Regions from separate parts of the Homo sapiens genome. Here regions 1, 2, 4, 5 and 6 are each reported to be linked to region 3. Evidence: microRNA targets listed by miRTarBase, many of them from high-throughput screens and not tested one by one. Region 3 holds a microRNA gene; each other region holds the end of a gene's coding sequence.

Region 1 (5,072 bases), not on the chromosome of region 3:
TAGTCGCCCTTCTGGTTTGTTCTCTGTGGGGCAGTTGGTGGGGGCTGGGGGAAGAGGCTGGCAGAAGTTACCCTGGATAGGGAAGGGGGAGGAGGGGACTTTTAGAGCCAGCAGGCCCCACTGTATTATGTATATATTTTTCAAGGTCTGTTTTTCTAACTGAAAAGCTAAGGGCTTGATTCCTAGCCCCGTTCTGTGGGGCACTGGGTGATACTCAGTTTCTTGTTCCTGGCCGTGGAGAGGGGCCTGGGGCACTGGTTCCGGCTGTGTCTGGTGGTCTGGCTGCGGGGAAGGGGCAAGAAGGCGGGCAGGCCTTCACTGCAGCACTGAGCCTCAAATCCGCTCTGGAGCATGAGGCTGGATGCAGTGGTGGTGAGGCCGCCCCGCTCCATCCCGAGGCAGCCAGGGTTTGTTTTGCGCTCTCCTGTCACAAATGCTGCACTATTGGTTCTTAAGTTTTTTATCTCCAGATCCTAATTTATGCCTATGCAAAAAATAAATGACGCCCAAGAGCTGTGGGATGTGGCTTTCATGTGGCTTTTGCCTATCACCTAGGGCAGCTGCTCTTGGGCAGATGAGGGAATGAATTCTTGGCCAAACGAATGTCCCCAAAGACTTATTCCTGAAGTTCAGAAACCCACAACTTTCAGCTAAAGCCCAGTTGTGGTGGGGGATGGGACCTGAGGCAGGTCTCCTCCAGTGTTTGTGGGTCAAGGGCTGGCATGAGGAAGCAGTGAGGTGGCTTTATTAGCTGTCATTGATAACCCATCACAAAGGGTGGGGCGGGAGCAGTGGGGCTTTCCTGTCTCTCAGTACCACTGAACAGCAGCAGAAAAAGTTACACTTACCTACCAGCCACGTCCACTTGGAGTGCAGTGATTCTCCTCCATGGGAATTCGCTATTTGCCCCTTGGACCTGTGACTGGGAAGGGACAAGGAGGTAGGTCCCTTGAACAGCCAGCAGCTTAGGAGAAAAACAGGCCCTGACCTTTCCCACAGATAGCTCCCCAGACCTGGTTCGCGTGGTTCTCTAGCCTGATCCTGGAGCCTCTCATACTGACCGTGGCACCTGGCCCAGGGCTGCTCCTCATCATGGCTGAGAAAACAAAGGCAGAAAGCCAGTCAGTAGGGAGGACTGTGGAGACAGCCACAAGGCAGGAGCTGGGTGAGGCACAAATCCAGCCCCCAAAGCCTTGGGCCAGCTCCTCAGCCTCTTGGGAGACAGCTGGTCCTGTGCTCACTCCCCTTCACTGACACCTGCTCTGCCTCTGACGCCATCTAAACAAAGGAGACATCCCCACGCAGCACCAATAAACAAGCCCCTGGAAGTTGCCACACACTGTGGCAAGAGTCCAGAGCCTGGGCTGGGCACATGCCCTCTGCCCATCTGTACATTCAAATCCTACTGGGCCCTCACAGCACAGCCCTCACACTGCCGGCTCCATGGTACTTCCCCCAACCCAACTAAACCTGTGCTGCCCCTGTGCGTGGCATATTCATCCCTGTGACCTTCTCTGTGCCAGGGTGGCTGATAAGCCAGAACAGTCCTGACTGTGGAGTCAGGGGTCTGGCCATCCCCATCCCACCATCACAGGCCTTACTCCTGGGAAAGACGCCACAAACACCTGCTGCACACACAGAAGGGTCAGGCCTTGCCATTGGAGGTGATTGGATTAACAATTTTATTCTGCATCCACTACAAAAGGGCTGGTGTTTTGTTCCAAATGTTTAGCTGGGAGGGCTGTAGGGACCCCTGTTACCCCCATTAAACACAGTAAAGCATGGATCCAGTCAGCCCCCTGCTGGCAGGTGTGGGCCTGGCAACTACACAGATCCAACCCCACCCTCCTGGGTGCGGCCAGAGGCCAAGGCAGTCGCCCGAGCTCCTGAATCCCAAGAATGGTTCTGGCAAGTACTGCTGTTTGTTTGTAGGGGCAAAGAGTTAAAATAAAACGAGGTTCTGCCATGGCTAAGCCTTGTGGAAACCAGACCCCAAAGCCCCTGCCATGCCAGGGGTCTCAACGCCAGACGCTTGTTATGGAGGCACCAGCAGGTAGTGGCCCCTGTAAGCAGGGCCAGAGTCGGGACAAAGAGCAGGAGTGAAGCAGCCAAGAGACAGAGGACCAGGCTGGAGCCAGTGGGCACGCAGGAGCCTGCCTGGGAAAAGCCGGGGGGCAAGGCTGGCATGGGAATGAACACCTGCTGGTGACACCTCTCTGAGCTTCAGTTCCCTTAACTAGAAAAATAGAACAGGCCCGGTGCGGTGGCTCATACCTGTAATCCCAGCACTTTGGGAGGCTGAGGCGGGTGGATCATGAGGTCAGGAGATCAAGACCACCCTGGCCGACATGGCGAAACCCTGTCTCTACTAAAATACAAAAAGTTAGCTGGGCGTGGTGGCGTGCACCTGTAGTCCCAGCTACTCAGAAGGCTGAGGCAGAGAATCACTTGAAACTGGCAGGCGGAGGTTGCAGTGAGCAGAGATCACACCACTGCACTCCAGCCTGGCAACACAGCGAGACTCCGTCTCAAAAAAGAAAAAGAAAAACAGAACAAACATCGACCTCAGGGGCGGCTGCTGGGAATGTCAACAGGAGCGTGTGAGACTCCTGGCAGTCCCAGCCAGAGCTTTCCTTTGGAGCCTGCCCAGGGCACAGAGGTGGCAGGGTGGCTAACGGTGTGCAGACCGCTCACTGAGCAAGCCTTTCCCTTGTGTAGGACACCCCAGGGCCTCACATTCTCTGAATCCACACAAGGTGATGGATGGCTTTGCCTCTTGTAAATGAGAAAACTGAGGTTCAGAGAAGGTTTGTAAGCTTGTCCCGTGTCACCAGCTGGTGAGGGAGCCTGAACACGGAAGCCATGCCTGCCTGACTGGGAAAGCTGGGCTCCTCACAGCACTGCCCTGCTCCCAGCTGTCGCCAGGGGCCCCAGGGCAGGCAGAGCAACTGCGTTCCCGTGGCAGCACCTCCACCTGGAGGGGCTGGGCAGGGAGCACCACACTGTCAACTTGGAACAAACTTTTATTTTGAATGCTGGTCTGATCAGTCCACGGCCAGGGGTAGGTGGTAACTAGAAACAGCTGGAAGGAGGGAAGGAGAGGGGACCAGCAGTCCGCAAGCAGGAGGAAAGGAAAGGGTTGGGGACAGGAGGAGGCAAGGCTGAGGAAGGACCCAGCCAGCTGGGTGTCTGCCCCGGCTAGAGAACGAACCACCCCCACCCACCAGCCTACCCTCCATCTGTGGCTTCAGTGCAGAAGTCAGTCCAGGTGGGTTCAGGCCCATGCCACCTTCTCTGGCCTGCACAGTCCCACCCCAGGCAGGGGTTCTTCCAGAAGGCTAAATGCTCTGTCCTAACCCTGGAAGTGTCCTTTCACTAACCCCTGCCTGCCCGCCCCACGCTCCAGTTGGGTCTTTCAAACCTGGAGCTCAGGCCTTCACTACTGTGCTCCTGTAGCAGCCACAGGGGTGGCGTGGTGGGGAAGATGGGGTTCTAGTCTCAGCCTGGCTCAGGGAAGATGGGGTTCTAGTCTCAGCCTGGCTCAGGGGAACATCCCTCCACCCCTCCAACAGGAGGTGCTACAAAACATGATCCTGAGCAGACCCAGACCCCCTTCTGGTAACCAGTGCCTGAGGCCCAACAAGAAGCGGGGTGATGGGAGGCTCCAGGCCGGGCAGATCAGCGAAAGCTGAGGGCAGCCAGGGCCGGCCCAGGCAAACGCAGGATTGTCTCCAAGGGGAAACCCACCAGCTGTCTTTGGGTTGGTGGCAAGGGTCAGGGTCAGGGCCCGAGATGGGGAGAGTCCTATAATCCCATCGCCATTCCCCTCCACATGTCTCCAGGTTACAACCAGAGAGCTTTTGGCATGACCTGAATCTGTGGGCTTAAAGGGAAAAAGGAGGAGAGAGAGAAAAGGGAAGCCACTACTTTCTCCCTGTTAAAATGCCCAAGTCCTAGACTGGGGGTTCCTGCTCTGGCAGCAGCAGACACCAAATCCCAGAAGCCCCTCCACCCGGTCTGGCTCCATGGAAGGTGCCCCTGAGTGCCAAGAGGAGCAGCAAGATAGGGAGGGCGGCTCCTTCCCCTCCTGACATCCCCTGACCGCCCCGAGGATTCTCAGAGACAGATACGCAGGCAGACAGCCATGGAGGAGAAAAGAGAGGTTGACAGGGCCCTGGGGGTGGCACTCCTGCACCACACACACACACACACACACACACACACACACACACACAATAGAGAGAGACAGAGACATATAATAAACAGAATAAAAACTAAGGGCCCAGATGTACAAAAAATGTGTGAGTGAGGAAGAAGGTGGGGAGGACAGTGAGAGATGGTCAGTCCTCCGGAAGTCTGGCTACCTTCGTCAGCTTATAAATTACAACCCCCCTGGAAAATGGGGGTGGGGGCAATGCGGAGGCTCCGGCTGTGGCCTGAGCGGGAGGGCTGGGTGGCGGTCATAGCTGCTCTGCCCATCTGGTGGAGTGGTGGCCAGAGATGATGACCCCTTGGGTGGTGAGGGTGGGCCAGGGGAAGGTTCAGCAGCCGCTGGCAGGAGTCACACAGGCCCCCTGGGACTTCACCTTGTGGCGCTGGCCCCCTCGTCGCCGGCCTCCACTGCTGGGCTTAGGCTGAAAGAGAGAGAAGGAGCTTGAGAAGCACTGGCCCATCAGGAGCAGGGCCAGAGAGCAGAGGTGCTGAGCAGCGGGGAGACAGGGACGGAAGATGCGTGAGCAGGCTGCGTGGTCCTCACCCTAGCCTGACCAGGAATTTACTGGGTCACTCTGCATGCAGCACCTCCCCTCTGTCTCTAAAATGGAGCCAGTGCCTGCCCTGCCTTCCTTACAGGGTGGGTAGGACACACATGATGAGGGTGTGAGAAGCGGCCGTTCAGAGAAGCACAAAGCAGAGCAGGAGAGAGAGAAAGGAAGCGAACGAACCAGAGGAAAGACCCATGGGAGACAGATAACAGAATGGACAGACAGATCCAGGCATAGCCTCCTTTTCCAATGAGGGGACAATGGAGAAAGATGCTGGGGAGAGGGGTGCAAGGGGCACCAGGCCTTCAT
Region 2 (5,072 bases), not on the chromosome of region 3:
ACGTGTCAGAAGTGGTGATTGGAGCCCCGTACGCGGTCACAGCAGAGCTCCTAAGTCACTTCAAGGTGAGGCTCCGCATGGGCTCACCTCGTTCCCTCTGTTCACCTCTGTTCCTGCATGGGCTGGGAATGCAGGCTGGCTGTGGGCTCCTAGGCGGGGCCCAGGAGGTACCTGGGCTGAGGAAAGGGCAGGGTCAGCTCTCCCAACCCCCGGGGCCTGTGCTGGGCTGTGGGTGGCGACGGCCGCTGCCTCCCCGGGGAGGGCTCCTGACCCCACTCCTTCTCCAGGTGGACCTGGTGTGTCACGGCAAGACAGAAATTATCCCTGACAGGGATGGCTCCGACCCATACCAGGTGGGTCATGCTGGCCCTTGCTGGGCACAGGGGTTGCCATTGGCACCTCCCAGCCATTTAATGACTCACTGTGCCTGCCTGGGAAACGGGCATGGTGGCGCAGCTGCTCCGACTGCACCACTCCCATGGGACCCTGGGCGCTGGTCTCCCTCTGGGGCAGGGCATCAGATGGGTCTTGGGGAGGTCAGCAGGGACCTTCATCCCGCTCCTCCTCTCTGGACCCCCAGGAGCCCAAGAGAAGGGGCATCTTCCGTCAGATTGACAGTGGCAGCAACCTCACCACAGACCTCATCGTCCAGCGGATCATCACCAACAGGTGCAGTTGGGTGGGGGCACCTCGGAGCCGCCTCATGGGCGCTCTCCGCTAGACTTACCGTGCCCTCCCCCTCGGAGCCGCCTCATGGGCGCTCTCTGCTAGACTTACCCTGCCCTCTCAGGTTGGAGTATGAGGCGCGAAACCAGAAGAAGGAAGCCAAGGAGCTGGCCTTCCTGGAGGCTGCCAGGCAGCAGGCGGCACAGCCCCTGGGGGAGCGCGATGGTGACTTCTAACCTGGCAGAGGCCCTGGCCGGCCCTCCCCCTGCTCTGCTTCTGCGCCTTCTGCGTTTGGACATAGGACTCTGCAGGGCCGCCCTCTCTAACTGGCCTGGCTCTGGAAGGGCTGGTGAGGACTCTGCCTCCTTGCCTGCCTACAAGGTGCCTGGTTTGCAGCAGGCTCTCCGCTCTTTCCAGCAAAGCTGCTCAGAGAGGGTGTCCAGCACAGTGGAGAGGCCGGAAGTGAGACGGGCAGACGGCACCTGCAGCCTGAAACGCACCGCTCCTGCGTGCGCCCCCACCTGGTCCCCGGATGCCCCCACCACCTGGACAGAGGCCACACTGACTGCCCACCCAGCTGTGGCGGGAGGTGCAGAGCAGAGGGCTTTAGGGAGCAGTGACTGCGGTCACCCCTTTAGTTCTCTGGGTGTAGACCACACCACCTCCCACTGGGCACCCCCCAACACGGTGTCCTGCCACCCAGCGCCTGGCTCCAGGAAAACACGCTTGCCTTCCTTCCCGGCAGCTTCGCCACTCTCCTTATGGACTCTGTTCTGTTTGTACATGGCTGACGGAAATCTCTTTGGTACAACCGAATAAAGCCTGGTGGCAGTGCTGCGCGGGGCTCCCAGCCCTGCTGGGAAGGACCAGGGAACCACTCAGCAAGGAGACCCTCTTGGCCCTGCCCCCACCATGCACCCAGCAGCCGGGAGTGCAGCGGGCAGCCTGGCAGTGAGTGAAACCCAGGCCTCCAGCCCTCCAAAGCCTGGGGCCACCCCCTGTAGCAGGCGATGCTAGAATAAGGAGGAGAGCCAGAGCTGAGGCTCCTTGCCCCTTGGCCCCTCCAGGGGCCATGGGATCTCTGTCTCCCACACCCCTGTCACGGCCCGCCTGGAGCAGCCCAGAGGCCGAAGAGGTTCTTACTGCAGCCTCCGGGAGGTGTCTAGGGAGGCCATAGATTGCCTGGTCTCGCCGCATTCAAAATGAGGCTTATGATCAGTACTTTTTTCAGCCCCACATTCCTCTCCAGAATGGCCTCTGCCCTACAGCACCTGGCCCATGTGGCACCCCATGGGCCTGTCCTCTGCTGTTGTGAGGTCGACCTCACGACCCAGCACAGGAGCTGGAGGCGAGGTGCACGCGAGGCTCTCCACAGCCCAGGAAGGCAGCCTGTCACCCTGCTCTCCGAGCCAGGGGCCAAGGTGTGGGGGGCACAGGCCATCCTCATCCTGCCAGGCCCCCGCTTTCAGGAGTGGGGTGGTGCCAATGCTCCCACTCAGAACCCTGGACTGCGGGGTCCCCTGAGCAGAGGGACCAGCCAGTTCCCCATAGACAGATTGGTGCTGGACAGGGGCTGCCTGGGCCCCAGGCTTGGGGAGGGTAGAAAGGCCCTGCAGTGCTGCTGCCTGGGCCCGGAGGTGGGCCTGGCCCCGTAGCAGCATTGGAGGCCAGAGCCCAAGCCAGTTCCGGAGTCACACCCAACGGCGGAGGGAGAACCTACCCATCTCCCACCTTCAGCTCTGGGGAGGCATGCTCTGGGCCTCTGGAGCCAGGGCTCAGGCCCCCAACTCTCCTCCTTGCCCCTGCACCCTCGGACTTGGCCTGGCCAGAAGGGATGGGGGCAAGAGGAAGGCAGCCAGGGGCTCCAGCCCATGCCCTCACAGATTTGGCTCTCGAGTTGGGGAGCGAAGGGCTGGGGGAGGACACTGGGAACCGGGCCAGCCGTGGCCCTGCACTTCCCCCAGGGAGCACCAAGGCTAGGCGCGGCTTCACCGCGGGGCTGGGTCGTGGCCAGCTTCGCCCCTGGGTCTGAAGACCTCTGGGCGGCCCAGGCCAACCTTGCCCTGCCGCCGCACACTCGGCTGCCTTCTCATACCCAGGCTTGGGGATTTCCAGGTCCCGTTCCCCTCGTGGCCTGGCTGCCAGTCCTCCAGCACCCCTCACTCCGAGGCCGCCTCATTTATTTATTCGTTTGCCATTAACTGCGGGGTGAGCGGAGTAGGGGAGACCTGGGGCGCCATCCCGCGCCGGAGGGGCCTGGGGTCACCGAGTGGGACGGTGGGGGCGGGGGGCCCCCAGCGGTGCCAGGAGAGGTCCGGGCTCAGGCGGCGAGGCAGTCGGCTGCGCGCAGGGACAGGAAGACGTTCGCCTTGCACTGGTAGGTCCCGCGGCCGTCGGGGAGCCGCTCGCACCTCTGCAGGTTTGGGGCGACGTCCTGGACGCACACAGCCTGGGGGGCAGGCAAGCAAAGGCTGAGGGGCCGCCGCACCCCCACCCACGTCCTGCCGCCGCCCCCCATCAGTCCCCGGCACGCCGGACTCACGAGGCTCCGCAGCCTGGGGTGCAGTTGCAGCTCCGGGGAGGCGCCGGCCCCGCCCGGGGGTTCCGCCCCTCTGTAGGGCTGGGAGCGCCGCGCGTACGGGGACCTGCGGAGGCCGGACAGCAGCCCCGCGGCGCGGCCCACCGAGTAGGAGCTGTGCCCCGCCGCTGGCTTGTACCACGCGAGGCCAGGCGGCGCCAGCAGCAGGCACAGCGCCAGGGCGGCGGCCGCCAGTGTCGCGGACCGGGCCATGGGGACGCCGGCTGACTGGTGGGCGGCGGCGTCCGGGCTCGGAGCAGCCACCGCCTGGGCCGCCTTATATCTGCGGCGAGGGCGGGCCGAGGCTGCGGAGGGCCGGGAGGGGCGGCGGGCGGGCTGGGGTGCAGCGGGCGCGCGCGGAGGAGCCGTCGCACCTCCGCATCCCAAAGGAACCAGCCGCGCGGGCGAGCGCTGGAGGCGCGCAAGGATCTGGCGCTTGGTGGGAGCCCAACGCCCCCTCAAGCTCCCCACCCATGCCGCTCGCGCCCTTCAGGCCCGGCTTGCGTGGGCCGCAGTGGCAGCAGGGGAGGGCCCACGGGCGCCCAGCCCTAGGAGTCGTCCCCCAGGCAATCCCCAGTACTCCTGATGCTGGAGAGCCAGCCACACTGCACAGTGCCCCGGGGGCGGTTTCTACCACCCTAAGGGGTATTCTTGGCTCCAGGCATCAGAGTCCATGTGGCTTGTGGGGCCCTCATTTCTTTCATGCCCACTGGGGAAGGTTCCACCAGCAGGGCTGTTACTGGCGGGGTCCTCTGGGAGGGGGGCAAGAAGGCCAGCCACACCAAGGCACTGGAGCTCCACGACTCCTGGCCTTCGATTGGAGGCCCCTCTCTGCCAGCTCTGCCCCTTGGGGGGCACCAGGCAGGACTGCCAGCCGCTCTCCTGGCAGGTGACATCAGCCTTCAAGCTCACTGTGCCCTCACCATTTCATGCTCCCCCAAGGTCCTGGTCATGTCTTCTCTTGGGTATCTTCCCAGGACAGGCACTGGCACTGGAGCCCTGGCACTTGTTTCTGGGTTCCATGCTTCCCAGGTGTGATGGTGAATGCTGAGTGTCAGCTTGACTGGATTGAAGGATGCAAAGTATTGTCACTGGGTGTGTCTGTGAGGGTGTTGCCAGAGGAGATTCCCATTTGAGTCAGTGGGCTGGGAGAGGCAGACCCACCCTCAATCCAGGTGGGCACCACCTAATCGGCTGCCAGCACAGCCAGGATACAAGCAGGCAGAGGAACGTGGAAAGACTAGACTGGCTGAATCTGGCCTCCATCTTTCTCCCATGCTGGATGCTTCCCGCCCTCGCACGTCGGCCTCCAGGTTCTTCAGCTTTTGGACTCTCGGACCTACACCAGTGGCTTGCCAGGGGCTCTGCAGCCTTTGGCCACAGGATGAAGGCTGCACTATCGGCTTCTCTACTTTTGTTTTGGGACTCAGACTGGCTTCCTTGCTCCTCACCTTGCACATGGCTTATTGTGGGACTTCACCTTGTGATCACGTGAGTCAATACTCCCAATAAACTCTTCATATATACTCTTCATATAGAGTCCTGTCTCTCTAGAGAACCCTGACACAGATTTCAGGTGAGGCCTGGTCTACTCCTCAGGTTGCTGTGAGGAAGGGTCAAGAGACACTGGGCACGGGTCACTGGCCCCATGAATGCCAAGGGCTCCCTAGGTTACTGGAGACACAGCCTGTGCTCTGTCCAGAAGCAGCCTGAGATGCCGGGGCTGCCACTCCCCCAGCGGCCCCTTCCCACCACGATTGTGGGGAGCAGAGGCACACAAAGGAGCCTCCCAGGGCCACCTTTCCCTAGGAAGGGAAGCCTCAGACGT
Region 3 (5,072 bases):
TGGCCTGCAAAGTTTCTGCTAAGAAGTTCACTGCTAGTCTGATGGGGGCTCCCTTGTACATGAAAAGTTGCTTTTCATCCTTGTGGGAGATACGAGTTGCTTTTAAAGTTCTTTTTGTTTTTGAATTTTGACAGTTTGATTACAATGTATCTTAATGTATGTTTCTTTGGATTAATCTTATTTGGGGTCCTTTGAGCTTTATGAATCTGGATGTCCATTACTCTTTCTAGATTTGTGAAGTTTTCAGCCACTATTTCCTTAAATAAGCTTTCAGCTCCTTTTTTTCTTCTCCCGAGACACCCATAATGCACACATTGGTTTGCTTGTTGGTGTACTGTAAGTGTCTTAGGCTTTCTTAACTCTTCTTCTTTCTTTGTTCTTTTTTCTTTTTGGACTGGGTAATTTCACATGACCTGCTTCAAATTCTCCGATTCTCTTTTGCTTGCTGAAATATGCTGGTATGGCCCTCTAGTCAATTTTTCAGTTCAGTTATTATATTCTTTAGCTCCAGAATTGCTGTTTAGTTCTTTCTATAGTTTATCAATTCTTTGTTGATACTCTTATTTTGCTCATATATCATTTTCCTAATTTCATTTACTTTTCTGTGTTCTTATAAGACAATTATTTTTAGTTCTTTGTTGGGCAGTTCATAGATCTTCATCTCTTTAATGTTGATTACTGGACATTTATTTTGGTACTTTGATTGTGTTACATTTCCCTGATGCTCTTTCTTCCTTGTAGCTTTGCATTGGTGTCTGCACAATTAAAGAAACAGTCTCCTCTCCCTGTTTTTACAGACTGGCTTTGACAGGGAAAGACTCTTATTAATCAGCTTAGCCAGAGATTCTGGGGGCCTCTTAAACTTTTTCTATGATTTTTTTTTTTTTTTTTTTTTTTTTTTGAGACAGAGTTTTGATCTTTGTTGCCCAGGCTGGAGTGCAGTGGCACGATCTCGGCTTACTGCAACCTCTGCCTCCCAGGTTCAAGCGATTCTCCTGTCTCAGCCTCCCAAGTAGGTGGGATTACAGGCACCTGCCACCACGCCTGGCTAATTTTTGTAGTTTTGGTAGAGACGGGGTTTCACCATTTTGGCCAGGCTGGTCTACAACTCCTGACCTCAGGTGATCCACCCACCTTGGCCTCCCAAAGTGCTGGGATTACAGGCATGAGCCACCATGCCTGGCCTGAATGTGTTTATGGATTTCTAAGTAGAGGGATTTACTGGTTTCTTTTTTTTAATTTCTTTTTTTTTTTTTTTTTCCAGTATCAGGGAATGTCTTGCTCCCTCTGGTGTCTGACTGCTGTACTACAGTCGGGGACATAGATGCTCCTCTCCTTTCTCTCCTTCGCTGTAGAGAAGCCTTGAGTTGTGCTGTCTGCTGCAAGCCACTGACCCCTTTTTTTCCTACTTAACTGCTCCTGAGCATTCAAACTATGCTGGTTTCGTCCGCTCTCCTTGTGAGGTGAGATAGAAACCAGCTCCTTGGACAGCTCACCAAAAGGCTAGGATGTTGAAGACATGCTCCACTCCTCTCATTTCCTCCTGAGGCTGAATCCTCGGGTTGCGTACCTTCTCTCAATCTCTCAGAGCTGTGCTGAGTGCAGGAAGCTGTCCACCCCTTTTCCTTTGTTCTTAACTGCTCTCAGGCATCTGAACCCTGCTGGTTTTGTTAGTATTCCACGTGAGTTTAGACAGAAATCCAGCCCCTAGGGCAGCACAGTGAAAAGCCGGATGTTGGTTGCACACTCTACTCTCTCCCTCCAAGGGAGAAGTCCTAGGCCAAGGTGATCTCCTTGGTGCTGAGCTGTGCCGGCTTTGGGGAGGGGCTGACCTGGGTAAAATGTTCTTCTTGCCTGTTTCAGTGCAACTCTTCTTGGTTTTGTTCTTGTCTGGAGTACGACAATATCTTAATTGGTTTCTGGACTTTTCATAAAGGTATTTTTGTCTATATGTCCTTGCTAAATCAGTGTTTCTGAGAAGCTGTGAGAACTGGACCTTCTTCTAGTTCAGTTTTGACCTTAACTATTCATTTGGTCTCAAGCTACTGCTTTCTATTCTTTTCATTTTAACCACAGCCATGCATTCCTACTATTAAATACAGTAATTCCTCAAATGTGCCAGCTTCTTTCATACCTCTGCTTTCTACCCAGAACATCTTTTCTTACTCTTTGGATCAGTCAGGGTTCATTAAAAATCAGAAAAGCATATAAAATGTCATTTGTTAAAACAGTGATTAAAAGCATGGACTCTAGAGCTAGCTTGCTTAGGTTTGAGTTTCAGCATTGCCATTTGTTAGCTGCTTGACTTTTGGCAAATTACTTATCTGTGCCTCAGTTTATTCACTTATTAAAATGGAGATGAGCTATGTCTAATCTCATTGGGTTGTTATTAGAATTAAATGAGTTAATCTATGTCAAGTTCTTATGACAATGCCCAGCACATAGTAATTTTTAGATTTGAAAAAAATTAGAGTGTAGGTCACAGAGGCCTTGGGGGAACAAACTAGGGCAGTTGTGAAGGTCTCAGTGGCAAGATGCACAGGCCATCTGTTTGCCATCAAATGACTTGACTCCAGCTGCTTGCTTTCCTTTTAGTTTTCCCTCCAGATTTAGATTTCTGAAAGAGAACATCTGATTGACTGAGTTTGAGTCAAATGCCCATCCCTTAGGGGCAGTTAATCAATTAAGTGGTGTCAGGCCAACTAAAAAGCAGCTTCCCACTGTACTGTCCACTGAATGGACAGACTCAGCTCATACTGCATTTCCTGTGTCTTCCCTAATTGTCACCGTCAGAGTCCCTGTGCTTGTCATGTCTTACCCAGTCTCCGGTGCAGCCTTGACAACAGGCTGCACCGGAGACTGGGTAAGACATGACAAGTTGTGTCACATCATTTGTTGTGTCAGTAAGTCTGTCTCTGCTCCTCAGTTGGTAAGCTCTCCGGAGTCCGACCCAGCTGCCTGTTTTTCTGAACTTAGTACAGGACCTGCCAAAGAGTAGACATTTAATAAAGGTCGAAAAATATCTCCCAAATTCAATCTTCCTTTACTCCCCTGGCTTCATTTTCTTCTGAGGCTGGCTCCCATTGATGCCTTGTACTTTCTAGACAAATAATATCAAGCTAAGTGGTAATTAAAACTCCAGAAACAGCCCCAGAGGGATTAAGAGAGTAAGTACTGGGCGGGTAAGAGTTTTTCAGGTGACTCCAGGCAACCTGAGAGATAACTTGTTCCAACAAAATTGTTACATTGAAAATAGAGGGGGGATAACAAAGGTAACAAAGGCTGGGAGGACATTTAATAAAATGGCAGTAGTAGAATTAGTACAGGAGGAGAATCATGAATGTTGTCTTTTTGTCTGTCTATTCTGCTTTCATTTAACCTAGTGGTTTTCAAACAGGGATGATTTTGCCTCCCAGGGGACATTTGGCAAGGTATGGAGATGGTTTTTAGTTGCCACAACAGGAGGGAGGTCTGTGCTACTGGCCTCTAGTGGACAGAGGCCAGGGGTGCCGCTAACATCCTACTATGCAGAAGATAGCCCCTCACAATAAGGAATTATCCAGCCCCGGATGTTAGTAGTGCTGAGATTGAGAAACCCTTACCTAATTCTAAGCCTCCCACCTCAACATTTCTCCAAAGGAGAAGTAGGGGCAATATGGCAGATATAGCAAGATTAATTAGTCACCATTTCCTGAATGCCCATGAATGTACAATTGCCTGGATTTGGTATTTTGAAGGCTATAAAAAAAGAAGTTTGTATTCCCTGCTCTTCCTAGACCATTTATGAGAACAACTCTGTTGTATATCCAGAGGAAGGCAGTACATGGTAGGCACCAAGTAAGTGCTTTATGGAGGAAGGAGAAAGGAAGATGGCAACTTATCTGGAGTAGCAAAGGTTTTGGAAGCAGAATAACTCAAAGTATTTGGGAAGAGAGTTGACTAGAAGAGATGGTTAGATAGGAGAGTGGTAGGAATTCTGGCTTATTGTATACCCACATGCTATACATTAATCATTATTTCATTTATGATGGCCCATCGGGGAGAGGGTGTTAAATCCAGAGTATCTTGCTGGGCTTTGAACCCAAGGAACAAATATGTAACGTTTAAGCTCTGTTGTTTTGGTCCTTTGGTTTCTTCTCTTCTTGATCTGTATTTACCACCTTATGGATAATCCCACATTTGCATCTGTGGTCATTAGTGTGCTCCTTAACTCCAGACCTGAGTCTCTGTGGGTTGCATATGGTCACTGCACATCCCAGAAGTGTCTCAAGTTCAGTAATTCTGGAAGTCAGCTATTTTTCTTGACTCATCGTTTTCCAATGACAAGCTCGTCCTCCTGTCTTCCTCATCAAAGTTTATTTGTTCGTTTAGTCAGCATTTGCCAAGCACCTGGACACTTAGGAGAAAGATGAATAAGACAGTCCTTCTTGCCAGAGGATTCTGTGTAATGGGTAAGGTAGATATGTAAATTGGCAGTTAAATATAGCATGAAAATTCGAGTGATCTAGCATATTAGTCTGTTTTCACGCAGCTGATAAAGACATACCCGAGACTGGGCACTTTACAAAAGAAAGAGGTTTAATGGACTCACAGTTCCACATGGCTGGGGAGGCCCCACAATCATGGCAGAAGATGAAAGGCACATCTCACAGGGCAGCAGACAAGAGAGACAGCCAAGCAAAAGGGGTTTCCCCTTATAAAACTATCAGATCTCGTGAGACTTATTGACTACCACAAGAAGAGTATGGGGGAAACCACCCCCATGATTCAGCTATCTACCACTGGGTCCCTCACAACACAAGGGAATTATAGGAGCTACAATTCAAAATGAGATTTGGGTGGGGACACAGCCAAACCATATCATCTAGGATATTTGGAAATAGAGGAAGGATATATCAGGATGCCAGCCTGGTGAAGAGGAGGGTCAGGGGATATCAGGCAGTGTTGCCTGGAGGGGTTGGTATCTGAGCTGATCTTAAAAGATGGAGAGATGGGGTTTTACCATGGAAAGATAAGCAGGAAAGAACATTCCAAGTGAAAGGCCCTCTATATGCAAGACCTGGAGGAAAGAA
Region 4 (5,072 bases), not on the chromosome of region 3:
CCAAAACCGCCAGGGCCACCTGTGGCCTCCTCGTCCTCGGCCACTAGCCTGCCGTGGCCCGTGGTCATCGGCATCCCAGCCGGCGCTGTCTTCATCCTGGGCACCCTGCTCCTGTGGCTTTGCCAGGCCCAGAAGAAGCCGTGCACCCCCGCGCCTGCCCCTCCCCTGCCTGGGCACCGCCCGCCGGGGACGGCCCGCGACCGCAGCGGAGACAAGGACCTTCCCTCGTTGGCCGCCCTCAGCGCTGGCCCTGGTGTGGGGCTGTGTGAGGAGCATGGGTCTCCGGCAGCCCCCCAGCACTTACTGGGCCCAGGCCCAGTTGCTGGCCCTAAGTTGTACCCCAAACTCTACACAGACATCCACACACACACACACACACACTCTCACACACACTCACACGTGGAGGGCAAGGTCCACCAGCACATCCACTATCAGTGCTAGACGGCACCGTATCTGCAGTGGGCACGGGGGGGCCGGCCAGACAGGCAGACTGGGAGGATGGAGGACGGAGCTGCAGACGAAGGCAGGGGACCCATGGCGAGGAGGAATGGCCAGCACCCCAGGCAGTCTGTGTGTGAGGCATAGCCCCTGGACACACACACACAGACACACACACTGCCTGGATGCATGTATGCACACACATGCGCGCACACGTGCTCCCTGAAGGCACACGTACGCACACACGCACATGCACAGATATGCCGCCTGGGCACACAGATAAGCTGCCCAAATGCACGCACACGCACAGAGACATGCCAGAACATACAAGGACATGCTGCCTGAACATACACACGCACACCCATGCGCAGATGTGCTGCCTGGACACACACACACACACGGATATGCTGTCTGGACGCACACACGTGCAGATATGGTATCCGGACACACACGTGCACAGATATGCTGCCTGGACACACAGATAATGCTGCCTTGACACACACATGCACGGATATTGCCTGGACACACACACACACACGTGTGCACAGATATGCTGTCTGGACACGCACACACATGCAGATATGCTGCCTGGACACACACTTCCAGACACACGTGCACAGGCGCAGATATGCTGCCTGGACACACGCAGATATGCTGTCTAGTCACACACACACGCAGACATGCTGTCCGGACACACACACGCATGCACAGATATGCTGTCCGGACACACACACGCACGCAGATATGCTGCCTGGACACACACACAGATAATGCTGCCTCAACACTCACACACGTGCAGATATTGCCTGGACACACACATGTGCACAGATATGCTGTCTGGACATGCACACACGTGCAGATATGCTGTCCGGATACACACGCACGCACACATGCAGATATGCTGCCTGGGCACACACTTCCGGACACACATGCACACACAGGTGCAGATATGCTGCCTGGACACACGCAGACTGACGTGCTTTTGGGAGGGTGTGCCGTGAAGCCTGCAGTACGTGTGCCGTGAGGCTCATAGTTGATGAGGGACTTTCCCTGCTCCACCGTCACTCCCCCAACTCTGCCCGCCTCTGTCCCCGCCTCAGTCCCCGCCTCCATCCCCGCCTCTGTCCCCTGGCCTTGGCGGCTATTTTTGCCACCTGCCTTGGGTGCCCAGGAGTCCCCTACTGCTGTGGGCTGGGGTTGGGGGCACAGCAGCCCCAAGCCTGAGAGGCTGGAGCCCATGGCTAGTGGCTCATCCCCACTGCATTCTCCCCCTGACACAGAGAAGGGGCCTTGGTATTTATATTTAAGAAATGAAGATAATATTAATAATGATGGAAGGAAGACTGGGTTGCAGGGACTGTGGTCTCTCCTGGGGCCCGGGACCCGCCTGGTCTTTCAGCCATGCTGATGACCACACCCCGTCCAGGCCAGACACCACCCCCCACCCCACTGTCGTGGTGGCCCCAGATCTCTGTAATTTTATGTAGAGTTTGAGCTGAAGCCCCGTATATTTAATTTATTTTGTTAAACATGAAAGTGCATCCTTTCCCTCCAGGCTGGTGTTTCTGCCCATGTCTACATGCACGTGTGCATGCTCGTGTGTGCTCACATTTGTGCCTGTGTGTCAGGCCTGGTCTCCAGAACCAGCAGCCTAACCCTCTTGGAGTCCCCTCGCTGGGCCAGAGCCACAGGGGCTGAGAACTGCACCTCCCGGCGGGAGAGTTTGGGTATACTGGGCTTCGGTGGTGTTGGGCGTGAGCACTGCCCACATGCCTGGCCAGGCCTGCGTCCTGCACCCCTGTCCCAGCGGCGCCCTCTCTGTGTCCTGGGGCTGGCACCTATGGCCCTCAGTGCAGGGCCTGGCCACTCCCCAGCCCCTCCTCAGGCTTTGGTGGGTGGCCCTACAGGAGGCAGCAGACTGGCCTCAGAGCTGGGGATGGGGCCAGGCTCAGGTCACCTCTGACCTCAGGGCTCCGTCCGAGTGCCCTCCCAGCCACCCTGCGGTGCTGCGACGGTGGCCGACCCCATCTTACCCGGTCAGCAGGAGGGGTGGGGCTGCCAGCTCCACCCGGGGCCCTTGCCTGCCGGGGGTTCCGTTAGCCTCGTAAGAAAAGGCACCGGGGCCCCTCGTGCATTCAGCAAAGCGTGAGGCCCACTGCGTCCCCGGAGCCTGGTCCTGCTGGCGTGCAGCGCGCTTCCTGACCCGCTCTGGTTCTGAGAGCTTTTCCCTGGAGGAAGCTCACCCTGCCTGGCTTCAAAGACGACAGGTGGGCTCTGGGGAGAGGTGTCAGGGACCTCTCCCCAACTGGAGCTTCTGGGGACCCCATGGCTTTCAAGATGTCCCCTTTTTGTTCTCTGTCCTCCCCAGGGTAGACCCTACTTCTCTCCCCTGAGGAAGTCCTGACTCCTTGGACGGTGACAGCTTCAGGCATGGCCCTGGTAAGGGCTGCGTGTGGCTGATGGGTGCTGTGGGAGGCCTGGCCACCCTGACTGGGGGACAGTGGGGGCTCCACGCGGCCCACAGCTGGCAGCCAAACAGATGTTCCCCAGACAGGACAGGCTGCAGGCCGACGCCTGGTCGGGTTTCAGTCTGGAGTAGGGGAGGGTGGAAGGGAGACCTCAGGCGTCTGGCCACCTTGGGCAGCAGGGAGGCCTCAGGCAGCGGGTCATGGGGTTGCAGAGGACAGGCTGCCCCTCCCCAGGGAGTGGGCGGAGGGATGGGCAGTCCGAGAGGGCTGTCCCCTAGAGCCTCTGAAGGAGACACTGGGACCGCAGACCCCACGCCTGCACCCTGCCTGCTGTGAGGTCCAGGCCCCCACTCAGGGCCACCCTTGACTTGTGGTCCAGCCCATCTTGCGCCTGCCCACAGGAGGTGCTGACTAGTGCTGTGTGGTCCTCAACGGACAGGTCTGGCACAGCCTAGCCTCTGGGTCTTGGGCTCTGGACTTTGTCATGCTGTGGCCACGTTGGATGCCAGGCTGGGCAGGGGGACCCCAAGGAGTCAGGACAGACCCATCTCCTGCCTATGGGGCCCCAGCCACCCCCGGGCCAATAGCCTGGAGCTCAGACCCCTCAGTCCTTCCCTAGCCTTCCTCAGGGGCTGCCTGGAGCCCCTGCTTTCTCCCCTGCGACTTCCAGACCCTTCCCCCTTGGCCGTCCAGTCCCGAGAGCCTTGCTCCCGCCCCCACGCCCCTCTGTTCGGCGGTCTCCAGCCTGAGCCTGCCGGGGCCCTGCCCTGTGGACGCCTGGCCTGTGTTCCTGGCTGTCTCTTGCCTGGCCCTGCCCCGTGGACTCCTGTCCCCGTGGCTCCTGTCCCCCCACCAGCCACACGGCCATCCCGATGCCGTTTCCCGCATCTCCGTCACGGCAGCACGCGTCTGTGCCCTGCGCCGGCTCCCTCGTCACATCTGCACGTCCACACTCCCAAGAACAAAATTGCGTTCCCCTCCCCTCCACGTGCAGGAGGCCTGGGAGCACAGAGGCCCCGTGTGCTTCGAGGACTTGAGGCAGGAGGCGGGCAGAGGCGCCCAGGGCGTGAGTGTGGCCAGCAGGACAGAGGGCAGGACTGCGCTTCTGACAGTGGTCTGCTCCGGCCAAGCACCTGAAAGATGGGGAGCCCTTCACCCCAGGCTCACTGGCCAGGAGGCTCGAAGGGCCGGGTGGGGCTTGTGGGAGGTGGGGGTGCCGCTCTGTGGGCCCCGTCTCACCTGTCCTGCCCGGGTCACCTGCACACCATTGCACCATGGGGGCTCCAGGCCCAGGAAGAGACCGACACACACGCGTCGGGAGGCTCCTTGGGGGCCAGCGGGCTTCTGGGCAATGCCCTTGCAGGGGTGGGGCTGGGGCATGGAATCTGAGGGGCAGGGCGACCGAGGGGGCCCAGGGAGAAGGGAGGAGCCCAGAGTGGCAGCCGTCTCCCCAGGGAGGGGCTGCACCTGGGGCTTCCTGGCTCTTCCACTGTCACCCTTCACGTGGGCAAGACCAGGTCCCATGCCCTTGGCCACCACAGGAAGGTCATGGGGCAGCTCGTGCTGTGGGGACGGGAACAGGGCTGGGCACCCGTCCCTGGCTCTGTCCTGGGCTGCTGGTGGTGTGGGTTGTAGTGGTGGGGGTTGCAGCCCAGGAGTCAACGGAGGGGACCTGGCTGTGTCCTCAGGGCGGCCCCCAGGCCAGGCCCTTTGGGTACGAGATGGTGGTGCCCGGGGGAGGCTCAGCATGGCGGGGCAGGGTGTGGGCACGGGGCCAGGCCCATGGTCCTCCCTGGCCCTGTCCTGGTGGTGATAAGCTGCTTCCCTGTAAAGCCCGGCTAACTTGAAAGTGCTGCCCAGGCTCCAACACCCCCGGGTGTGACCCGCCCCCGCCCGGCCCTCCTGGCTTCAAAGGGGTGCCCATAAGCCGCCTGCAGCTGTCCCGGGGGTGCCTGCGTCTGCTGCCAGGGACAGGGTGGCAGCATGAGGCAGAGATAGGGGATGTGGGCAGCCCCACCCAATGGGCCCGTGGGTCAGAGGACCTGGCCAGAGATCACAGCCTTGTCCCAGGCCGAGGCTGGGGGCTGGGGGACCGGGTCAGGAACGTGGGACGAGGAGCACAGATGGGGCCCAAGCCAGGAAGAGGGGTGCAGGCCAGGAAGAGGG
Region 5 (5,072 bases), not on the chromosome of region 3:
ACAAGAGCCACAATGAGAAGAAACCCTTCGCATGCAGCGAATGTGGAAAAGGCTTTTATGAGAGTACAGCCCTCATTCAACACTTCATTATCCATACTGGGGAGAGGCCCTTTAAGTGCCTTGAGTGTGGGAAGGCCTTCAACTGCAGGTCACACCTCAAGCAGCATGAGCGGATTCACACTGGTGAGAAGCCCTTTGTGTGCAGTCAATGTGGAAAGGCCTTCACTCACTATTCCACCTATGTCCTGCATGAAAGAGCCCACACTGGAGAAAAGCCTTTTGAGTGCAAAGAATGTGGGAAAGCCTTTAGCATTCGAAAAGACCTCATTCGACACTTCAACATCCACACTGGAGAGAAGCCCTATGAGTGTTTACAGTGTGGAAAGGCTTTTACCCGCATGTCAGGGCTCACAAGGCACCAGTGGATTCATACTGGAGAGAAGCCGTATGTATGCATCCAATGTGGGAAAGCCTTTTGTCGGACCACAAACCTGATTCGACACTTTAGCATCCACACTGGAGAGAAGCCCTATGAATGCGTGGAGTGCGGGAAGGCCTTCAACCGCAGGTCACCCCTCACAAGGCACCAGCGGATTCACACTGCAGAGAAGTCCCACGAACCCATCCAGAGTGGGAACGTTTCTTGTGAGAGCACAGATCTCATTCAACACTCCATCATCCACACTGAGAGTAGCCCAGTGAGTGCAGTGAATATGGAAACGCCTTCAATTGCCGCTCATTCCTCCTCACTCGACATCAACGGATTCATAGTGGAAGAAACCCTACCATTGTAACAGATGTGGAAAGACTTTTTACGTACACTTCAGTCAACATCCAAGAATTCCTATTAGCGAAATAGTTTTTTAATATAACCACTGAAGAAAATCTGTGGTGAGAGGAAACATCTTACCATCTGGTCATTCATACTGAAGAGAAACTCCATAAGTATCATCTCTGTGGGAAAACCTGTTTTAGATCATCATTTGTCATCTAAACAATTATGTTAGAAATTGACACAGCCAAGAGTCTTATTCTACATCTGATAATTCACCCATGAAAGAGACCCAGTGGTTACTGTGCACTTAGGAAAACCTTCAGCCACATCTTTCTTATTAGTTTACAGTGAAATGTTATCTCAGGGACATTCAAACAAAGGAGGAGGAGTCATAGGGAAGAGAAAGAAATGGAAGCACAGCTTCTTTCAGACTTCCCTGACAAGCCCATGGCAATTTGTCATCCCCTCCTTATTTTATTTGGGAGAGGGAAATGTTTCAGAAACAAAAGGGCCTCATCCCCTTTATTTTCCCTGTGTATACATTCACTGCTGTCCAGTGCTGTAGACAAACGGTTTGTTTGAAAACATTTTGTGAAAGCCTGCTTTGTTCCACAGCATTGTCTCCACTCTTGAGGAGCAGAAGCATATATCTTTATGAGAAAGATGGAGGCTTGAGTTATGAAATACTTTTACATTTAAGGAGATAAAGGATGTACATATGAATGGGCACATTTTACTGCACACTTCAGACGCTTTGACTTTTTTAAAAAAATTGTTTCTCCGTGTGTCTTTAACCACCCAGTACCATACTTTTTTCTTGATCTGGATCTACTTGTCAATTTCTTCTTTATTTTTCTGTAGGATGGAGATGATATTGTAGCTGTTTGTACATAATGTAATCCAGGGAGTCCTAATTCTTCCCTCTGATTGTGGTTTCTCAGCTTTTTTACTGCTCTTTAGAGAGAGTAAATAGTTCAAAATTCACCTCAACAATTTTCTAGAGGTCAATTTGGAACCAAAAATGAAATAAGACATGTAGCTAAAGTAAGTTAAAAGATTATGATAAACTCAGAAAATAAACACAGAGAAGGAATCTCATTTTTCAGTCTTACAGAAGATTGTGTGAAGGCTGACTATACATAAAGTGACTGGAATTTTAACAGGTGAACCTGCATATGTATATGCAGGTAGTTGTCACCATGGATTGAGTCCAGTCGTAGTAATTAATATGTTTAATCAGAATATTTTGGAATTTCTCTTTTGGTATTCTTTTTGTTTCTTTTATTGTTTTTAATTGACAATGTTTATGGGGTTTGGTGTGATATTTCAATACATGTGTGCTAAGAGTAATGATCAAATCAGGGTAATTAGCATATCCATCTCAATCATTTATCATTTCTTTGTGTTTAGAAACATTCACAGTCTGCTTTTCTAGCTATTTGAAAATATAAAATGTATTATTGCCAATTGTACTCATTCTGCAGTGCCACAGAACACTACAACTTATTCAAATGGAATCTTACTTGCTGTAATTTTGTATTTGTTAACCAATCTCTATCTGCCTCTCTGCTGTCCTTCCCAGCCTCTGGTTACCACCATTCTCAACCTTTTATGCTTGCATATGAGTAGAAACATGGAGTATTTCTCTTTCTGTGTCTAGCTTATTTCACTTAATGTCTTTCAAGCTCATTCATGTTGCTGTGAATGACAGGTTTATTTTTCATGGCTGAGTAGTATTCCATTGTGTATATATGCCATGTTTTCTTTCTTCATTCATCTGATAATGGACACTTAGACTGATTTCTTAGCTATTATGAATAGTGCTTCAATAAACATAGGAGTGTAGATCTCTCTTTGACGTATAGATATATTTGTTTTTGCATATATGCCCAGTAGTGGTATAGATCATTACCAGTGGATCATATGGTAGTTGTATTTTTAACTTTTGTTTATTTTTCATTTTTTAAAATGGGGTCTTGCTGTGTTATTCAGGCTGGTCTCAGACTCCTGGGCTCAAGCAGTCCTGCACCTCAGCCTCCTGAGTAGCTGGGACTACAGGCACACACCACCGTGCCTGGCTATAGTTTTAGATTTTTGAGGAACATTCATACTGTTTTCCATATGGCTATACTAATTAGCATTCCTACCAGCCATATATAAGAGTTCCCCCTTTTCCATGTTCTCAGCAGCATTTTTTATTTTTTATCTTTGGTAATAGCCATCCTAACTGAGGTGAAATTATATCTCATTGTGGTTTTGATTTGCATTTCCCTGATTAGTGATGTTGAGCATTTTTTCATATACTTGGCCATTTGTATGTCTCCTTTTGAGGGATGTCTATTCACCTTATTTACCCATTTTAAAATCAGATTTTTTATTTTTATTTTTTTTGCTATTGAGTTCCTTTTATATTCTGGATATTAATCCCTTTCAGATGAATAGTTTGCAAATATTTTATCCCACTCTACTAGTTGTCTCTTCATTCTGTTGTTTCCTTTGCTGTGCAGAAGTTTTTTAGTTTAATATAATCCCTTTGTTTATTTGTGCTTTTGTTACCTTGATTTTCAGGTATTCATAAAATCCTTGCCCAGACCAATATCCAGAAGCATTTCCCCTATGTTTTCTTCTGTAGTTTCATAGTTTTTGCTCTTACATTTAAGCTTTCAAACCATTTTGAGTTGATTATCCTGAGAGCATAGATTCAAATTGCCCTAAAAATACATTCCCAATTTTTGTTTTTGCTTTTTAATTATTTTTTAGAGACATAGTCTCACCACATTGCCCAGCTTGGTCCTGAACTCCTGGACTCAAGTGAGCCACAACTCAGCCTTCTGAGTAGCTAAGATTACAGGTATGAGCCAGCATACTTGGTGTTTTGAGTTGATTTTTGTGTATGGTGAGAGATGAGTCTACTTTCATTCTTCTGCATATGAATATCCAGTGTCCCAGCACCATTTATTGAAGAGACTGTCCTTTTCCCAGTGAATGTTCTTTGTGCCTTTGTTAGAAATCAGTTGGCTGTAAATGGGATTTATTCCTGGGCTCTCTGTTTTGTTCCATTGGTTTGTGTGGTTTTTAAAAAATACCTGAACCATGCTGTTTTGGTTACCATCACTTTGTAGTATATTTCAAGGTCAGGTAGTGTGATGACTCCCATTTTGTTCTTTTTGCTTAGGATTGCTTTGGATATTCAGTATCTTCTGTGATATCATGAATTTTAGGATTACTATTTCTATTTCTGTGAAAAATGTCATTGGTATTTTGTTAAGAGTGCATTGAATCTGTAGATCACTTGAGGTAGTATGTTCATTTTTTTTCATAAGCTATCTCTTACAGGAAAGTATGTTCATTTTTATAGTAACCATTCTAATCCATGACCATGGGATGTTTTTCCTTTTTTATGTGTGTCCTCTTTGATTTACTTCATCAGTGTTATATAGTTTTCCATGTATTCTTATTTTATTTTTGTTGAAGTATTGTAAATGGGATGGCTTTCTTGATTTCTTTTTCAGCTAATTCATTGTTGGTGTATAGAAATGCTGCTGATTTTTGCATGTTGATTTTATATCCTGCAAGTTCAGTGAATTTATCAGTCCTAAGATTTTTTTGGTGCCACTTTTGGAGTTTAGGGTTTTCTATATATTTGATCCTGTCATGTGCATACAGGGATAATTTGACTTCATGCTTCCTGATCTGCATGCCCTTTATTTCTTTGTCTTGCCTGATTACTCTGTCTCAGACCTTTTGTACTTTGTTAAAAGGTGTGAAAGTGGGCATACTTGTTTTGTTTCAGATTATAGAGAGAAAGCTTTCAGCACTTTCCCATTATGCATGATGTTAGCTGTGGGTATGTTACTTATTACCTTTATTATGTTGAGGTACGTTCTTTCTATTATTATTATAATTTTTTTTAATTTTTTTTTTGAGATGGAGTCTCGCTCTGTCGCCCAGCTGGAGTGCAGTGGCATGATCTCAGCTCACTGCAAGCTCCGCCTTCTGGGTTCACACCATTCTCCTGCCTCAGCCTCCCAAGTAGCTGGAACTACAGGTGCCCACCACCATGCCTGGCTAATTTTTTGTATTTTTAGTAGAGATGGGTTTTCACCATGTTAGCCAGGATGATCTTGATCTCCTGACCTCGTGATCCGCCCGCCTCGGCCTCCCAAAGTGCTGGGATTACAGGTGTAAGCCACCGCGGCCGGCCCATTCTTTCTATTATTATGTGTAATTTGTTAAGAGTTTTCATCATGAGGGGATATTGAATGTTACCAGAGGCTTTTTCTCCACCTATGGAGAT
Region 6 (5,071 bases), not on the chromosome of region 3:
GGGACCATCTAGGGAAAACTATGAGAATTATATTCCAGCAGATTCATTCATTCATGTGGAAGATTATAACTCTCCCAGTGAGCTAGCAAAGTATCTGAAGGAAGTCGACAAAAACAATAAGTTATACCTTAGTTACTTTAACTGGAGGAAGGATTTCACTGTAAATCTTCCACGATTTTGGGAATCACATGCATGTTTGGCTTGCGATCATGTGAAAAGGCATCAAGAATATAAGTCTGTTGGTAATTTAGAGAAATGGTTTTGGAATTAAAATTTTTCATCACTTGCACACTTGATAAATATTTTGATGAGATATCATCCAAGTATTGAGGATAAGAAGAGATGCAACATACTACTTTTGTGTCACAATTTATTTTTATCACCCTCTCTAGGGTAACGTGTATATTTTGGTGGAGATTTTTAAAAGCTCAGCATGAGCAATCATTCCATTCGGTTTTAAATTATCCTGTATATACCTAATTATGTGCACTGGAGAGTAATTTATTCTTCATTATCATTTGTAAACATTGTTTTTTCACATTTTTGTAGTTGTCCATAATGTAAGCTTGTGGTTTGATTATTGTTTCCACACTGATCAGCTGTTTAATCTATTTGGGAAATGAAGATGCACATCTTAAAGTATGAAAAATTTTCACTAAGTATTACAATGTCTAGTTCCAACTTTGCATACTATAACAGAGGAAGAACATGTTGCGATTGAATTCTAACCTCTTTGACTCCGAAGATGAATGAAGTGTATAACTGTCTCTATTTGATCTATTTTTTTTACCTGTTTATCACATTTGTGAAGGTGAAATTATTCATGGAGTGAATAAGAAAGATATGAAGCAGAACTGTTCTATTCGGGAAGCTATTAGACTTCTCATTTATTTTCATTAAGCTGATTTGCAGCTACTTATTCTCATGGTCTTAAATTAAATTATTCAAGTATTTTTAAATATCCAATTTGTTGTGATTTTCAGCACCTGGGAAGTAATCCCAATAATACTTTAGAAAATCTAAGACAGTTCTTTCTGCTACTGATGACACTCATTGTCATAATAAAACAAATAATTTCCTCAAATAACAAAGAAAAATGATACCTATAAATATATTTATAAATGGTGTCATTTATGAACAATGTTTAATTATGTATCAATTTAAGATTTTTTTCTGAAGCCCTAATATTTAAAATGGTCTTATTTTACCATATGGATATAAGATTTGGCTCATAATGATGAGCCCTATCATTTGATTTGAGTTCTATCATTTAAGAGAGCCTAAATAAAATTATCATCAAGGTATTAAATATAAGACGTTAAATATAATAAAGTGGGGATATATAGAAAACACACAGTGTTAGCACACAGTAAGATCTCAATGCACATTTGTTGGATGAATAAATAAATGCAATTGAATTCCCAGAAAAATGATTGTTTCAAGGAAGTGACAGTTCTACTTTAGAAGTACTAATTGGAGATGACTTTTATATCCCATTTTGGTAATTATTCATACATAGCACATATGACCATGATGTTCAGGGCTTTATAGAACCAAATAAACCTACCATTACATGAAAATTTTGAAGAGTATATTCCTGAACTTGCAGCTGCCTATAGCATTCTCCTCCATAAGGCTAGAGGAGAGCTGGATATAAGCAGAGATCGTAGGTGAAAAAAGATGGGCCATTAAGGATTCTTCAAGGAAAACATTCCTCAAAATGATCTTTAGTGCCTTTATTCCTTTCAGGCCAATAATCCACCCAAAAATTAGAATGTTCTGAGACATCCATTTGGGTCTATTTGTGACTTATTCGTATTACAAATTGACATCAGCAAAATTCAAAAAGAATTCAGTAAAAAGGGCATAGATCCAGCTATCCAGACTATCTTGTGAGAGAATAAGCTCACCCCAGCACCAGAAAGATTTGAGCAGAGGAATATTCCTGTAATGAATAGAGGATTGTTTGATTCTCAGGTATATTTCTTAAGCCAAGATTGAATGCAGTGTCAGGCACTGCCTTAACACCCACAGAGATAAGATGAACAAGGTACTATCACTGCCTAAAATGAGCTTACAATTAAGTGGATAGACATATAAAAGCTTCCTTTCAATTCAGCCTGAGACTGTTTATATGCATGTGCTACTCCGAATGACGTTTGTATGGGTCAATGCTGATTTAATGGGGAAAAAAAGTAGAAAATTTCCCCAATTGCTTAGCTGTTTGACATGTTTCTGAGCTGCAAACTTTGTCAACTCTTTTGACCCAACATATTATTCTCTCCGTATTATCTCTTCTAACCACAATGCATTAAGAAATAATATTTTTATGTGGATGTCCTCCTCAATAAGTAAAGATCTCCATCCATATTTAATTAATTGGTAAGACAGTCAAATTCATACATTTACATTTACTTTGTCAAATTTTTTGGTCTATAAAAAGCATAGAGATCTAAAGAGGATACACTGCTAACAAGTTTAGAAAGCACCTGCTTTTTTTTATTATTATTATTTTTGTGATAGAGTCTTGCTCTGTCGCCCAGGCCGGAGTGCAGTGGTGCAGTCTCGGCTCACTGCAACCTCGGCCTCCCAGGTTCAAGTGATTCTCCTGTATCAGCCTCCCGAGTAGCTAGGATTACAGGCGTGTACCACTATGCCTGGCTAGTTTTTGTATTTTTAGTAGAGATGGGTTTCACTGTGTTGGCCAGGCTGGTCTTGAACTCCTGACCTCAAATGATCCACTTGCCTCAGCCTCCCAAAGTGCTGGGATTACAGGTATGAGCCACTGTGTCTGGCCCACCTGTTTTTTTTGAAGGCAGAAAAACATTCAATATTAAAAGCATTCAATATTATTTCAACCTGCCTTGGCTCTAGTGAATGTTCATGATTTGAAAGAACTGAAAGACCTAAAGGCAGTGTCTCTATTGTTGACTACAAATGTAGGCTCTTTGTTGGACTATGACTATAATCACACACTGATAATATGACGCAAGTAGAGGCAGTACTACTAAGTATCTAGCAGGTGCTTTGAAACCCCATTACTAAGTCCCAGAAGACTGTTTCCTAAATTTGAAGTGGAAGAATTAAATGACTCAATGGAACCCTTTAGCTGTGGGTCCATTGATGTGTGAGTTTTAGAGCTGGAAGGAATTATAATTTTGTTGTTTATAATTGCTATAATATAGAAATTATAATTGCTTTTCTTTCTACTTATGAGTTAACTAGATCCAGAGATATTTATTCAAGACACACATTCACACACACATACACACACACACACACACACCCCACAGCTAGTGACAATAGTTAAGATTTGGATTTAAGGATCCTATCTTTCTTTATCCCACTTTCTTTTCAATCGCATTCATAACTTATTATAGAATTATGTCTCAATTTTTACAAATGTGAATGTCTTATTGGTATTTTTAGGGCCTATAGAATGGTACACCTCATGTAGAAGAACTTCGACTTTTGAAGGTATACAATAAATAAAACATCAAACTTGTTAGCATTCGTTCTGGTTTAAATATTTTAGGAGTTGAGTTCAGCAGAAGGAAATGGGCTATCACTACATTTAAGTGAAATACAACCCTCAAGAAAGTGTATGGTTCACAGCCACTCCTTTAATAAATCCTGTGGGTTGCAATTCTTTGTAAGAAACTCATGAAAAAGATATATTGATTCAACAAAATTGGTTTGCTGTTGATTATACAAACCAATAATTATGCCTAGAATTAAATTGTGGACACAAAAAAGGGAACAGACCATTTAAAATGTTTTATTTCAAAATATCGAAAAGCTATTACCTTCAATACTCTAAATATTTAAATATTAATTATTGTAGACATCAGTAAGAATAAATAAATGTTAATCATTATAGACCTTACTAATAAGAATATATACTGAATTGTCCACATCCAGAGTATTACACCCTGAACAAGAAAGACATGAGAGCCTGACAGTCATATATATTATGACAGCTGTATATCTGACAATATGAAGTAGAAACTGAAAAAAAAAATCATCTTAGTGGGAAACAAATACATGCTTAAAATTGTTATATTTACTGTAAAACTCCTGATAATCTTAGATTGTGCAGAAATGTTTCTTATTTTGAGGGGCTTAGAAAGCTCAGCGCATTTGATGTATAAAGCAACAGAATATTTAGGAATTATTTGCGGAGGCTTTAAATTCTTACCTCCAATTGGAGGTTAAATATTAAAAGAATAGGAAACTATGCCTCTGATATTTTTTTTGTCAGCCTATTTTTAAACTAGATTCCATGAGTCTTAAGGTAATATCCTAGAATTTTTTTTTTGCGTGAATTAAAGTTACCACAAATTTCAGGTCCTTACCTTATGACTGTGTTTGATCATATCTTTGAGTTCCCTTGAACTCTGATCTCATTTTGAGAAACATTTTGAGAAACTTCTTAACAATTACAATCGAGCTGTTAAATATAACAAACATCAGAATCTAAAGGATAAGCACAGTGCCTAATGTACAGGAGGGTCATATCAAATACTTGTTGAATAAATACATGAATGTGATAAGTGGTCCTGTAAAATATTTTTTAAGAGTAGTGACAATGTTTATTGGTACCAATTGGAGATGATATTTTATATTTATTTTGTTAGTTTGTCACCTGGATGCAAAAGGAAGGCATTTTAATTCCTTTCTATCTTACAACATTGTAAAGCATCAAAAGAAGTAACATCTCAAGAAAGATTAGAAAGGATTTGGATCACGTTAACATTCTATGCAAATATTAGTAACATATCAACTGTTTCTAAAAGGAAAGAAAATTAGTATTTAAGGAGAGTATAAAGTGCGAGCACTGTGAAGGGCAGATATCTATTACCAAACCACATGGAGAGAAATATAGTCTCTCTCCTAACTTCATTCCATTGTATTGCAATCAGTCAATTAAGGTGATTTTTTTTTTCTGGATGTCTCAATCTAGAGATTTTGTAGCATTTTGCAAATGGGTATGCTTCACTACTATCCACAGTGTTCTCCCCTTTAGTAATTCATATTGAATATATCCATATTCATATGCATTTTATAAAAC

Evidence for each region. The annotated mature microRNA hsa-miR-3130-3p reads GCUGCACCGGAGACUGGGUAA and lies in region 3 at 2,815-2,835, opposite strand. An mRNA with a match to its seed (bases 2 to 7 or 8) in the 3' UTR can be bound and repressed. Matches are read on the target gene's strand: a 7mer-m8 pairs with bases 2 to 8, a 7mer-A1 pairs with bases 2 to 7 and ends in A, and an 8mer does both.
Region 1: the mRNA of GTPBP1 is a reported target of hsa-miR-3130-3p. Seed matches in the 3' UTR shown: 7mer-m8 at 4,190-4,196.
Region 2: the mRNA of PCYT2 is a reported target of hsa-miR-3130-3p. Seed matches in the 3' UTR shown: 8mer at 1,255-1,262, 7mer-m8 at 3,226-3,232 and 7mer-m8 at 3,585-3,591.
Region 4: miRTarBase lists FGFRL1 as a target of hsa-miR-3130-3p. Seed matches in the 3' UTR shown: 7mer-A1 at 864-870, 7mer-A1 at 1,232-1,238, 7mer-A1 at 1,292-1,298 and 8mer at 1,379-1,386.
Region 5: the mRNA of ZNF460 is a reported target of hsa-miR-3130-3p. The part of its 3' UTR that is shown has no 7-base or 8-base seed match.
Region 6: miRTarBase lists FUT9 as a target of hsa-miR-3130-3p. Seed matches in the 3' UTR shown: 7mer-m8 at 2,557-2,563 and 7mer-A1 at 4,094-4,100.

The regions. Positions count from the first base shown.
Region 1 is chr22:38,730,174-38,735,245 of GRCh38, reverse strand. It overlaps GTPBP1 (GTP binding protein 1), which reads right to left. Exons shown (of 12, transcript NM_004286.5): 12 at 1,659-4,634. The coding sequence ends at 4,542. SUN2 (Sad1 and UNC84 domain containing 2) reads left to right here. Exons shown (of 18, transcript NM_015374.3): 18 at 1-512. Among named protein-coding and RNA genes, the nearest start is that of SUN2, 23 kb to the left of the region's middle. RefSeq lists an enhancer at 3,050-3,099.
Region 2 is chr17:81,900,663-81,905,734 of GRCh38, reverse strand. PCYT2 (phosphate cytidylyltransferase 2, ethanolamine) reads left to right here. Exons shown (of 13, transcript NM_002861.5): 10 at 1-65; 11 at 288-353; 12 at 581-669; 13 at 791-4,777. The coding sequence ends at 902. It overlaps NPB (neuropeptide B), which reads right to left and starts at 3,497. Exons shown (of 2, transcript NM_148896.5): 1 at 3,209-3,497; 2 at 2,830-3,115. The coding sequence starts at 3,457. The coding sequence ends at 2,987. RefSeq lists silencers at 3,020-3,379, 3,470-3,569, 3,790-3,839.
Region 3 is chr2:206,780,431-206,785,502 of GRCh38, forward strand. MIR3130-1 (microRNA 3130-1) reads right to left here and starts at 2,878; the gene lies at 2,804-2,878. All of the region lies in intron 7 of FASTKD2 (FAST kinase domains 2), which reads left to right. It overlaps MIR3130-2 (microRNA 3130-2), which reads left to right and starts at 2,804; the gene lies at 2,804-2,878.
Region 4 is chr4:1,024,907-1,029,978 of GRCh38, forward strand. FGFRL1 (fibroblast growth factor receptor like 1) reads left to right here. Exons shown (of 7, transcript NM_001004356.3): 7 at 1-1,992. The coding sequence ends at 441. Among named protein-coding and RNA genes, the nearest start is that of FGFRL1, 16 kb to the left of the region's middle. RefSeq lists enhancers at 839-1,340, 1,341-1,840.
Region 5 is chr19:57,291,437-57,296,508 of GRCh38, forward strand. It overlaps ZNF460 (zinc finger protein 460), which reads left to right. Exons shown (of 3, transcript NM_006635.4): 3 at 1-2,633. The coding sequence ends at 794. Among named protein-coding and RNA genes, the nearest start is that of ZNF460, 13 kb to the left of the region's middle.
Region 6 is chr6:96,203,965-96,209,035 of GRCh38, forward strand. It overlaps FUT9 (fucosyltransferase 9), which reads left to right. Exons shown (of 3, transcript NM_006581.4): 3 at 1-5,071. The coding sequence ends at 271. The region is part of intron 2 of UFL1-AS1 (UFL1 antisense RNA 1); the gene reads right to left. Among named protein-coding and RNA genes, the nearest start is that of FUT9, 190 kb to the left of the region's middle.